Linked DNA regions of Homo sapiens. The protein of the gene in region 1 purifies or fractionates together with the protein of each later gene. This does not show direct contact. Each region holds a gene or a part of one and is shown on either strand. Other genes may lie near its edges.

Region 1 (4,087 bases):
AGTGCTTTAAATCAGAAAACAAGAATTAGCTAGCTTACACATTCCACTGAATAGTGTCAAAAAAGATAAACGTATTTAAAATAAGTTGTAAGTCCAGCAAATATAAGCTTGATGGGTTAACTAACATATTAAGTAATTACAAAGATTCATTTTTTTACAAACTTTTAAACTATTTTAATAAAATGGCTATAGACCTCACTGTACTTCTATTTATCTGTGCATTAATAAAAACCTGTTAAAATTCCTTATTTAGTACTTCTGAAAAAGTCTAGTCAAATAAGATCACTAAAATTACCAGAAAAGCTTTGAAATACTGATTGCAGATTCATTTCAAAGTAGATTTAACACATTTCAGGATCTGGTGTTTAAATCATGAATGTCTTCACCAGCGTCAACTCTGAAAATATAAAAATTTTAGTCAGTGCTGGCTGTAACAGTACTGGCATTACTTGAAAAAATAGAAATAAAAAATACATTGTCAATCATGCATTCCACAATTTTCTTTTTGAGCTCGATAGTATATATATTTTTTCTCATTAAAGATTCAAAACCAAAAGTGGTTTCTCTTTGCAGCAAATATACATTAAAATAGAGTCTCTGTACAGCCAAGGGCTCTGGGCCCTGGCTTGCCCCATGTCTCTGCGCCTCCCTGGCCAAACCCAAAAATAAATATAGTGTTATTGTTCTGCAGGGCATAGAGGCAGTGCTCTCCTACCCCCGAGGAGGCTGGGTGGGAGCTGATGGGGAAGCCCTGGCCACCCCAGGGGTCCAGGGGCTGGAGCCTGCTTGGAGTTATTGCTTCAAGGCCGGGCACTAATGCCCAATGCAAATGATGAGAGGAGGAGCAAAGGGAGCATGGGCCTTTGCTCTCCAAGTCCCACTCTGCTCTGAAGAGGGGGTAGGATTAAGCAGCAGCAAAAGCATCACCCACTGGGAGACTGTGGCCTGCACCCCCTTCCCTCCCTGAGATAGGCTTCTGCCTCCCACACATCCCCTGCAGCCCCCTGTGGCTTCGGCAAGGCCCCCTACACTCTTGGGGCACGCTATGGCTTGCAAGGGGCAGCACTGTGCCCAGAGCCCGGACACACGTTTCCAGCTTCTGACATCCCCTAGGAGGGGGGAGGGGAGGGAGTGGGGCCTGCTCCCAGGGGCTGATGGCATTGCCCTGGCCCTGCCAGCAGGCTGTGGCACTGCCCAGACCCCAGCTCCGCCCCAGCCCTTGGGGCTGACCCCATGCTAGGCAGGTCCTGCCAGAACCCCCACCAGTCCCACCCCTCGCCTCAGTCCATCATGGCCTCGAGCATCTCCAAGAACAGCTTGTGCATGGGCACCTTGCCCTCCAGCTTCACCCCATAGAAATGGGCCAGCACTTTGCCCGCTGTCTGGTGGAGGAGCGGTAGCGTGAACAGCAGCCTGCCTGGCCGCCGCCGCTCAGCACCCCCTCCGGTGCCAGCTCGGCCGGCTTCATACTCCAGCAGGGCCTCGTGCGGAGCTTCTGGCAGCTGCTCCACAGCCTCGGCATCTTCGATGGGCACAGAGTCTGAATTGGCAAGGGCCAGGGCCTTCAGTAGAACGTACTCCCCTCGCTCCAGCCGCAGGGACTGCAGCCGCCGCACCAGTTGCAGCAGGGCAGCCCCCAGTTCCCCCAGGCCAGCTGCCCGTGCCCCCTCTTCATCCAGGACTAAGTCCTCAGCGAAGGCCAACTCATCCTGCAGTGGCAGTGAGCGCTGGGCCACACCCGGCACCAGCACCTCCATTCATACTCTCTGCAGTACTGACATCTGGTCAGACAGCGACAGCGATGAGAAGCCTGGGATGCTCTTGGCCCAGCTGATGGTGACCACGATCTCTCGGTCAAAGAGGTCACAGAGGGTAGCCACGGCTGGAAGGTGCCCATCAGGGCCAGCAGGGTCGGGCAAGGCATAGAGCTTCTCAGGCTCAACCACCATTAGATGAGACACCAGTGCATTCACTGGGCCTGTCGTCTGGGGGCCTCCAGCGACTGCCAGGGGCCCAGCAGGGAAGGCGCCCGGGAAGGGCAGCGGGTCCACCTCTGGCACCGCTTGTACTCCCGCCCACCCCGGACGCGGTCCAGGCGCGCTCCCGCAGGCTCTTGGTGAAGCGGCAGGCCTGACAGGCCTTGCGTCTCCGCTTGGTGATCTCACACTCGTTGGAGGCCAGACAGCTGTACTCCATACTCCCCTGGATGGTCCTCTTGAAGAAGGCTTTGCAGTCCTCACAGGATGACACACCGCAGTGGTAGCCGGAGGCCACGTCCCCACAGACCAGGCAGAGGCGCTTGGACAGGGAGCTGAGCACCAGCTTCCCACCGCCCTGCTCGCCAGGCCCAGCCCCCTCCCCATCCTCCTCTTCCTTGTGGCCTGGGAGGCAGTGGGTGGGAGCTGGACCAGGGGCCAGGGCCACAGGAGGCTCGGGTCTCTGTCTCCGAGGAGCCCTTTGGACTGTCAGGCCTGGCCGGCTCTGCCATGATGTAGTGGCTCACTGCCCACCACCTGGCTGGACATGGCGCTGGTCACCTGACACGCGGCTGCCCTCCTGCCCCAGCATGCCGATCCCAGGCACACGGCGGGGGCCGCTCCACCTCCTCGCGACCGGCCTGCAGGTCCACTCTAATATTCCCGCTGTCGCAGACGCCGCCACCTCCCGGGGCGCCGCGCCCCGCCCCCCAACCTAAGCACACCTTTGGGAAGTTGCCTAAAGTTGCTACGCCTCCCCGCAAGCCCCGACGCCCGCGGGAGACCGCTACCAGGTTATCAGGAAGTAAGTGGGGAGAGCCAAGGAAGAGGAAGTTCTTCCCGGCCGTTGCGATGACCTTTGACCCAGAGAGGAGGGTGGCCCCAGGCCCCTTCGAGCGCCCCCACGTGGTCTTCAGAGCCCCTTTCCCGACATAGAGACTTCCCCGTCTTCCACCCCGGCCAGCCCCAGGGACTTCGGCAAGCGAGGGATTGAACCCTGCCCCGGGGCGGGCTGGATCGGAGGCCCAACCCTGACCCGGGCCAGGACCCGCAGCCAGAGCCAGATCTTGCCCCAGGCCGGCCCACCAGAACTCGGACGCCAGATCCCGCCTGAACCCTGACCAGTCCGGACCTCGACTGGGCCCCGACCGTGGCCCAGACTGGCCCCAGAGCCGGCCCCCGCCTGGAGCCCGCCCTGCCCTCCTCCCTGCTGCCTCATCACACAATTTCAAGAACTAAGTGGCCGGAAGCGGTGGCTCACGCCGGTAATCCCAGCAGGCCAAGGTGGGCGGATCACGAGGTCATGAGATCGAGACCATCCTGGCTAACACGGTGAAACCCCGTCTCTACTAAAAATACAAAAAAACAAAAATTAGCTGGGCGTGGTGGCGGGCGCCTGTAGTCCCAGCTACTCGGATGCTGAGGCAGGAGAATGGCATGAACCCGGAAGGCAGAGCTTGCAGTGAGCCAAGATCCCGCCACTGCACTCCAGCCTGGGCAACAGAGCAAGACTCCGTCTCAAAAAAAAAAAAAAAAAGAAAAGAAAAGAAAAAAGAAAACAAAACAAAACAAAAAACTAAGATATGTAACTATAAATATTGTTATGTCTTTGCAGGTTATCTCAACTTCCATCAGGCCTCAGCTGAAAGCTCATCTGCCAAAACGCATCAGCACTCATGTAAAATAAAAGGAGTAGGGAGGTGACTTTGTACACATACTGTCCAGTGTTTGGCTGCCAGTTTCCCTCTTGTGTGTAACTATTCTAGGTATGACTCCTTGAGCATGAAATGAGGGGTAGATAGAACAGCACAGCTGTTGGGCTAACAAGAATTGGTGTGTAGACTGGGCACAGTGGCTCACCAGTGTAGTCCCAGCACTTTGGGAGGCCAGGGCAGGAGGATCACCTGAGGTCAGGAGTTCAAGACCAGCCTGGCCAACATGGTGAAACCCTGTCTCTATTAAATATACAATTATTAGCTCTCTATTAAAAATACAAAAATTAGGCTGGGTGTGGTGGCTCACGCCTGTAATCCCAGCACTTTGGGAGGCCGAGGCAGGTGGATCACGAGGTCAGGAGTTCAAGGCCAGCCTGGCCAAGATGCTGAAACCCT
Region 2 (4,694 bases), on another chromosome or scaffold:
GCTCCAGTCCTAGGCTATCTGCTGTTGGCCAAACATGGAAGAAGCTATTCTGTGGGCAGCCCCAGGGAGGCTGACAGGTGGAGGAAGTCAGGGCTCGCACTGGGCTCTGACGCTGACTGGTTAGTGGAGCTCAGCCTGGAGCTGAGCTGCAGCGGGCAATTCCAGCTTGGCCTCCGCAGCTGTGAGGTCTTGAGCACGTGCTCTATTGCTTTCTGTGCCCTCGTGTCTTATCTGAGGACATCGTGGCCAGCCCCTAAGGTCTTCAAGCAGGATTCATCTAGGTAAACCAAGTACCTAAAACCATGCCCAAGGCGGTAAGGACTATATAATGTTTAAAAATCGGTAAAAATGCCCACCTCGCATAGTTTTGAGGAAGATGAACTGAGATGTGTCAGGGTGACTTATTTCCATCATCGTCCTTAGGGGAACTTGGGTAGGGGCAAGGCGTGTAGCTGGGACCTAGGTCCAGACCCCTGGCTCTGCCACTGAACGGCTCAGTTGCTTTGGGCAGTTACTCCCGGGCCTCACTTTGCACGTGTGCTTACCTAGTGGAGACAAAAGTACATACCTCGGTAGAGCGCGCACGCCTGTAACCCCAGCACTTTGGGAGGCCAAGGTGGGTGTATCACCTGAGGTCAGGAGTTTGAGACCAGCCTGGCCAACATGGTGAAACTCCGTCTCTACTAAAATTACAAAAATCAGCCAGGCTTCATGGCACATGCCTATAGTCCCAGCTACAGGCATGCTGAAGCAGGAGAATCGCTTGCACCCCGGAGGCAGAGGCTGCAGTGAGCTGAGACCACACCACTGCACTCCAGCCTAGGCAACAGAGTATGAGACTCCATCTCAAAAAAAAAAAAAGTACCTACCTCAGAGTTCAAACTAGTGAATATTAGGAAGTGCTTGAGACAGTGACACCAAAGTGCACAATAAATACTCGCCAGTTTCATTATTATTAAAGAATCCATTTGAATGTCAGCTCAACACAGCCTCCTATACCGAGGCATTGTGAACCGCATCTCCCCAGCTTCTCCAGGCTTTTCCAAGAATCAGGGACACTGTAGCCTGTTGGTCTCAGTGTATGACAGACACGGAGGAAGCACATCTTTAGCTGATACTTAAACAGAGACCCTGAGCGCACATACACCCGCGCACACATGCATGGAGCTTCACCTTCTCTGTCATTCTGCAGTGACCAGGAGAGCAAGAGCTCCCACCTCCCTTCAAAACACTGTGCCCATCCCGGGCACTAAGGCCTCTTTAAAGCACGGCACCTCCACGAGGGAGGGCCACAGCCACATACACTCCACCTGGCAGGTGGACAGCGTGAGCACGTGGACCATAGCAGGGACAAGGTGCCCCGGCCAGCCCCAACGCCCTCTGCCGCTGACAGGGACAGAAGCCCTCTCCAGCTGCGTGTGCTGCAGAGGCCATGCGTAGCCTCCAGCTGCATTCTATTCCACTCCAGTGCCTGGGCCAGTTAGCACCAGTGTGGAAGACAGTGAGCTGGCTCCGGACAACAGGGATGGAGGAAAGGTCCCACATTCACATTCCTGATACGTGGACAAGGTGAGGGGCCGCAATCGCTCTGGCAGCATTTTAAAGATGGGGAAGTAGCAGACACCCACGCGTGAAGGCAGGAGAGCCCCAACTGTGGTGGAAATGGCCCCAGAATGGTAGGGCCAAGCCTAGCTCCAGACACCCCAGAGCCCTGGAGAAGCCAAGACTGAGGGAGAAAGCCTGAGGGAGGAGCGCCCCAGTCCCCAGGGACCGGCCTGGTGCAGAGCTGCAGCTGATGTTCCCCTCTGTGCAGCCCCACCCTCTGCCTCGCTGAGCTCCCTGCTGCGAGGGCCTCGGGTGCAAGGGGGAGGCAGGTCTCTATCTCATGGAGCTGTCAGATGAGACATCGCGATCGGAGTCCTCAGCCTCGCTTGGCGGCGGCGGCGGGTCGCTAAGCGGGACCGCAGTGAAAGCAGGAGACTTTCTAGAAAAAAACACCAGTTGTCAACCTTGGGGCAGGCAGGAATCCTGAAGACGGACGGCACTCCTCCTCCTGCTGCCTCACCCTCTGGCAGCCCGTGAGAAGTACCGGAAGCGAGGGCGGGGCCGCGGGATGGCGAGGGAGCGGCAGGGACTGAACTCTCTCCAAACCCACCCTGACAGGGAAATGGGCCCCGCCTGTGTCTTGGGAACTCAGAGGCTGAGGTCAGGCATGATGGCTCACGCCTGTAATTCCAGCACTTTGGGAGGCAGAGGCGGGTGGATCACGACGTCAGGAGTTCAAGGCAAGCCTGGCCAACATGGTGAAACCCCATCTCTACTAAAAATGCAAAAATTAGCCAGGTGTGGTGGCGGGCGCCTTGGAGGCTGAGGCAAGATAATCACTTGAACCTGGGAGGCGGAGGTTGTAGTGAGCCAAAAAAAAAAAAAAAAGAAATAGCTGAAGTCACAGTAGGAGAGAAGCTGCTGAGCCTCCAGCACCCTGACTCTAGGGCCTTGGCTTTATGTCTATCTGCAGTATTTTTGTGATTTTTAAAAATTCACTTTCTTGTTGCGGTGTAACTTACACAGGGTCAAATGCACAAATCATGGCCCTGACTTTAGATAAAAATCTGCCCCCACAACCCTTCTGTTCCTTGCCAGTTTTTAAACTGCCTCTAACCAGGGGAACCACCAGAGCTGGTGGCCTTGGGAGGTTTCAGCCCTCCCGTCATGAATGGACATAGCTCATCCAACTGCCAAGGGAGAGAGCTGTGGGTCTGGGCCAGCCCCACCAGGTAACTCCCAAAGGGCAGCCCCACAGCAAGATGTGACCCAGTCATTGCCTGAGGGTCTCTGGGGCTGTGTTCCAACCTTTCTCCCCGCTGTGTCCCCCTGGAAGGCCCCATGCCCAGGGGAGGCGCCTACCGGTCTCCAGACTGGGTGATGAGCCGGCGGCAGGTCTCCATCTGCACGTCCAGGCCGCGCTTCATGCTGCACATCTCCATGTACTCGTGCAGGTGCCGGTTCATGTCGTTCTTGGCCGTGGCCAACTCCAGCTGTGGTGGGGCAGGCAGGGCCATCGGGGTTAACAGGTGGCGTTCACAGCGCCTCTGTTGCCCCCGCCAGGAGGCCAACACGCCAAGAGCAGTGGCTGGGCCGGGGGCCCAGGCAGCCATTACTGAAGGCTCAGATTTTAAAATAAACCAGACCAAGGCAGAAGGCAGCGAATACACCATTGTTTCCTCTGCTTTTCCTGGAAATCTTTGCCTATGGAGGAATGCAAAGGTACTGCTGCAGGCTGTGTTCTTTTAAGACTGATAAGAGTGGTGAGGAAAGTCAGTGTGGGCGGGATGGAGCAGATCCACAGGCTCCCAGGGCCACACAGGTTCCTATGGGGCCCGGCTCACCCCTCATCCCCTGTACTGCGCTGGTCCTGGGCTGTCCCCTCACTGCACTGTGAGCTCCCGTAAGGGTTAGCGACAGGTTTTCCTCATCCTGGCAGACCCAGACCTCGAAGGGAATTAACTCTCTCTGTGACCCGTGGCATACAAGCCTGGCTAACTGCTGAAAGGGGCCCAATCCTCTTACCATTCTCTCCTTATCACTTTATTTTCTCACCTAAAAGCCATTTTCAGACACTAAAAGGAAGACTCCCATATTGGAGGTGCCATTGATTCTGAGACCTGTCCTGATTTCAGAAATGTCACACGTGGAAAACACGGGGCTCAGAATCAAAGAAATCCGGTCTCCCTCCCCGGGCCCATTCTGCAGCCCACACTCTGAGGCAGGCGGAGAGGCAGGGCCCAGGCAGCACAAACTCAGTGCCAGGGACAGTCGACTGCCTCTCTTTGTTTTGGGTACAAAGGGCAGGGGCCGCAAGGGGAAGCAAAATGAAACTTCCTGGAGATGACGTTCGTGACTGCCTGAGTGAAGAGAACGGGGAGGATACCAGCTGCCATAATGTGGATTGGACAGAGAGGGTGGGAACTTAGAGAAAGAAGGAAACAGGTTACAGGGCCAGACAGCAGAGATGGTCAGGACAGTGACATTTGGGGTGAGATGGCGGCTGGCTGGGTGAGAAGCCCTAGTGGGGACAGCTTCCCTGGCAGGCTTGGATCCACAGCTGGGGCCCCACAGTAGTGGGAGGAGCAGGACACGGTGACTGTTCAACCCAGGGGGAAAATACAGTGCCACCAGCCCTTGTTCAGATCAGCTGCCTACACCCCAATTTCTCCACCTTGGAAGAACCGGAGTGCAGGGAGCTGGGTTCTGGAACCATCACTCAGGGAGACTGGGAAGAAGGAAATGAACCAAATATATTCTACTGAAATACAAGGCTAGTACTGCCACCAGTAGTCTCTGCATATGTCTATGTCCCCACTTAATTCACAAATTTACAGCAGGAACAAGGTCAGGAGGTGAACGTGCATGTCAGGAGATGTCCTTGACAAGCCACCTTGAAAACTGCAGGCTCGCTGTGTGAACAGACTTGGGGGTGGGACGGGAGGAGACAGAGAGAGGTGAGGAGCGGTGGGGAAGAACTGCCTCCCGCCCACCACTCTGGGCCTTGGCTTTACCTTGCTCCATCTTAGTGACCCTGAGAGATCAAAGGTCACAAAGATAAAGGCACCTTGGGTACTCCTGAGGTCAGCAAGTCCTCCTAACGGTTCCCCTAATGCAGAAGTCCCCAAACCCCAGGCCACGGACCAGTA

What was found.
Region 2: the proteins of TPTE2 (region 1) and IFFO1 purify together in Homo sapiens (affinity purification with mass spectrometry; 2 studies listed by BioGRID and IntAct, with this or other methods). This does not show direct contact.

Annotation. Positions count from the first base shown.
Region 1 is NC_000013.11:19,558,733-19,562,819, forward strand, and holds the start of TPTE2 (phosphatidylinositol 3,4,5-trisphosphate 3-phosphatase TPTE2), read right to left. Parts: upstream 2,801-4,087; 5' UTR 2,702-2,800; exon of another isoform or gene 2,607-2,701; intron 398-2,606; 5' UTR 296-397; intron 1-295. UniProt on the Homo sapiens protein: Acts as a lipid phosphatase, removing the phosphate in the D3 position of the inositol ring from phosphatidylinositol 3,4,5-trisphosphate.
Region 2 is NC_000012.12:6,538,605-6,543,298, forward strand, and holds the end of IFFO1 (non-homologous end joining factor IFFO1), read right to left. Parts: intron 3,250-4,694; coding exon of another isoform or gene 3,169-3,249; exon of another isoform or gene 3,046-3,168; intron 3,039-3,045; coding exon 2,908-3,038; intron 1,985-2,907; coding exon 1,879-1,984; 3' UTR 935-1,878; downstream 1-934. UniProt on the Homo sapiens protein: Nuclear matrix protein involved in the immobilization of broken DNA ends and the suppression of chromosome translocation during DNA double-strand breaks (DSBs).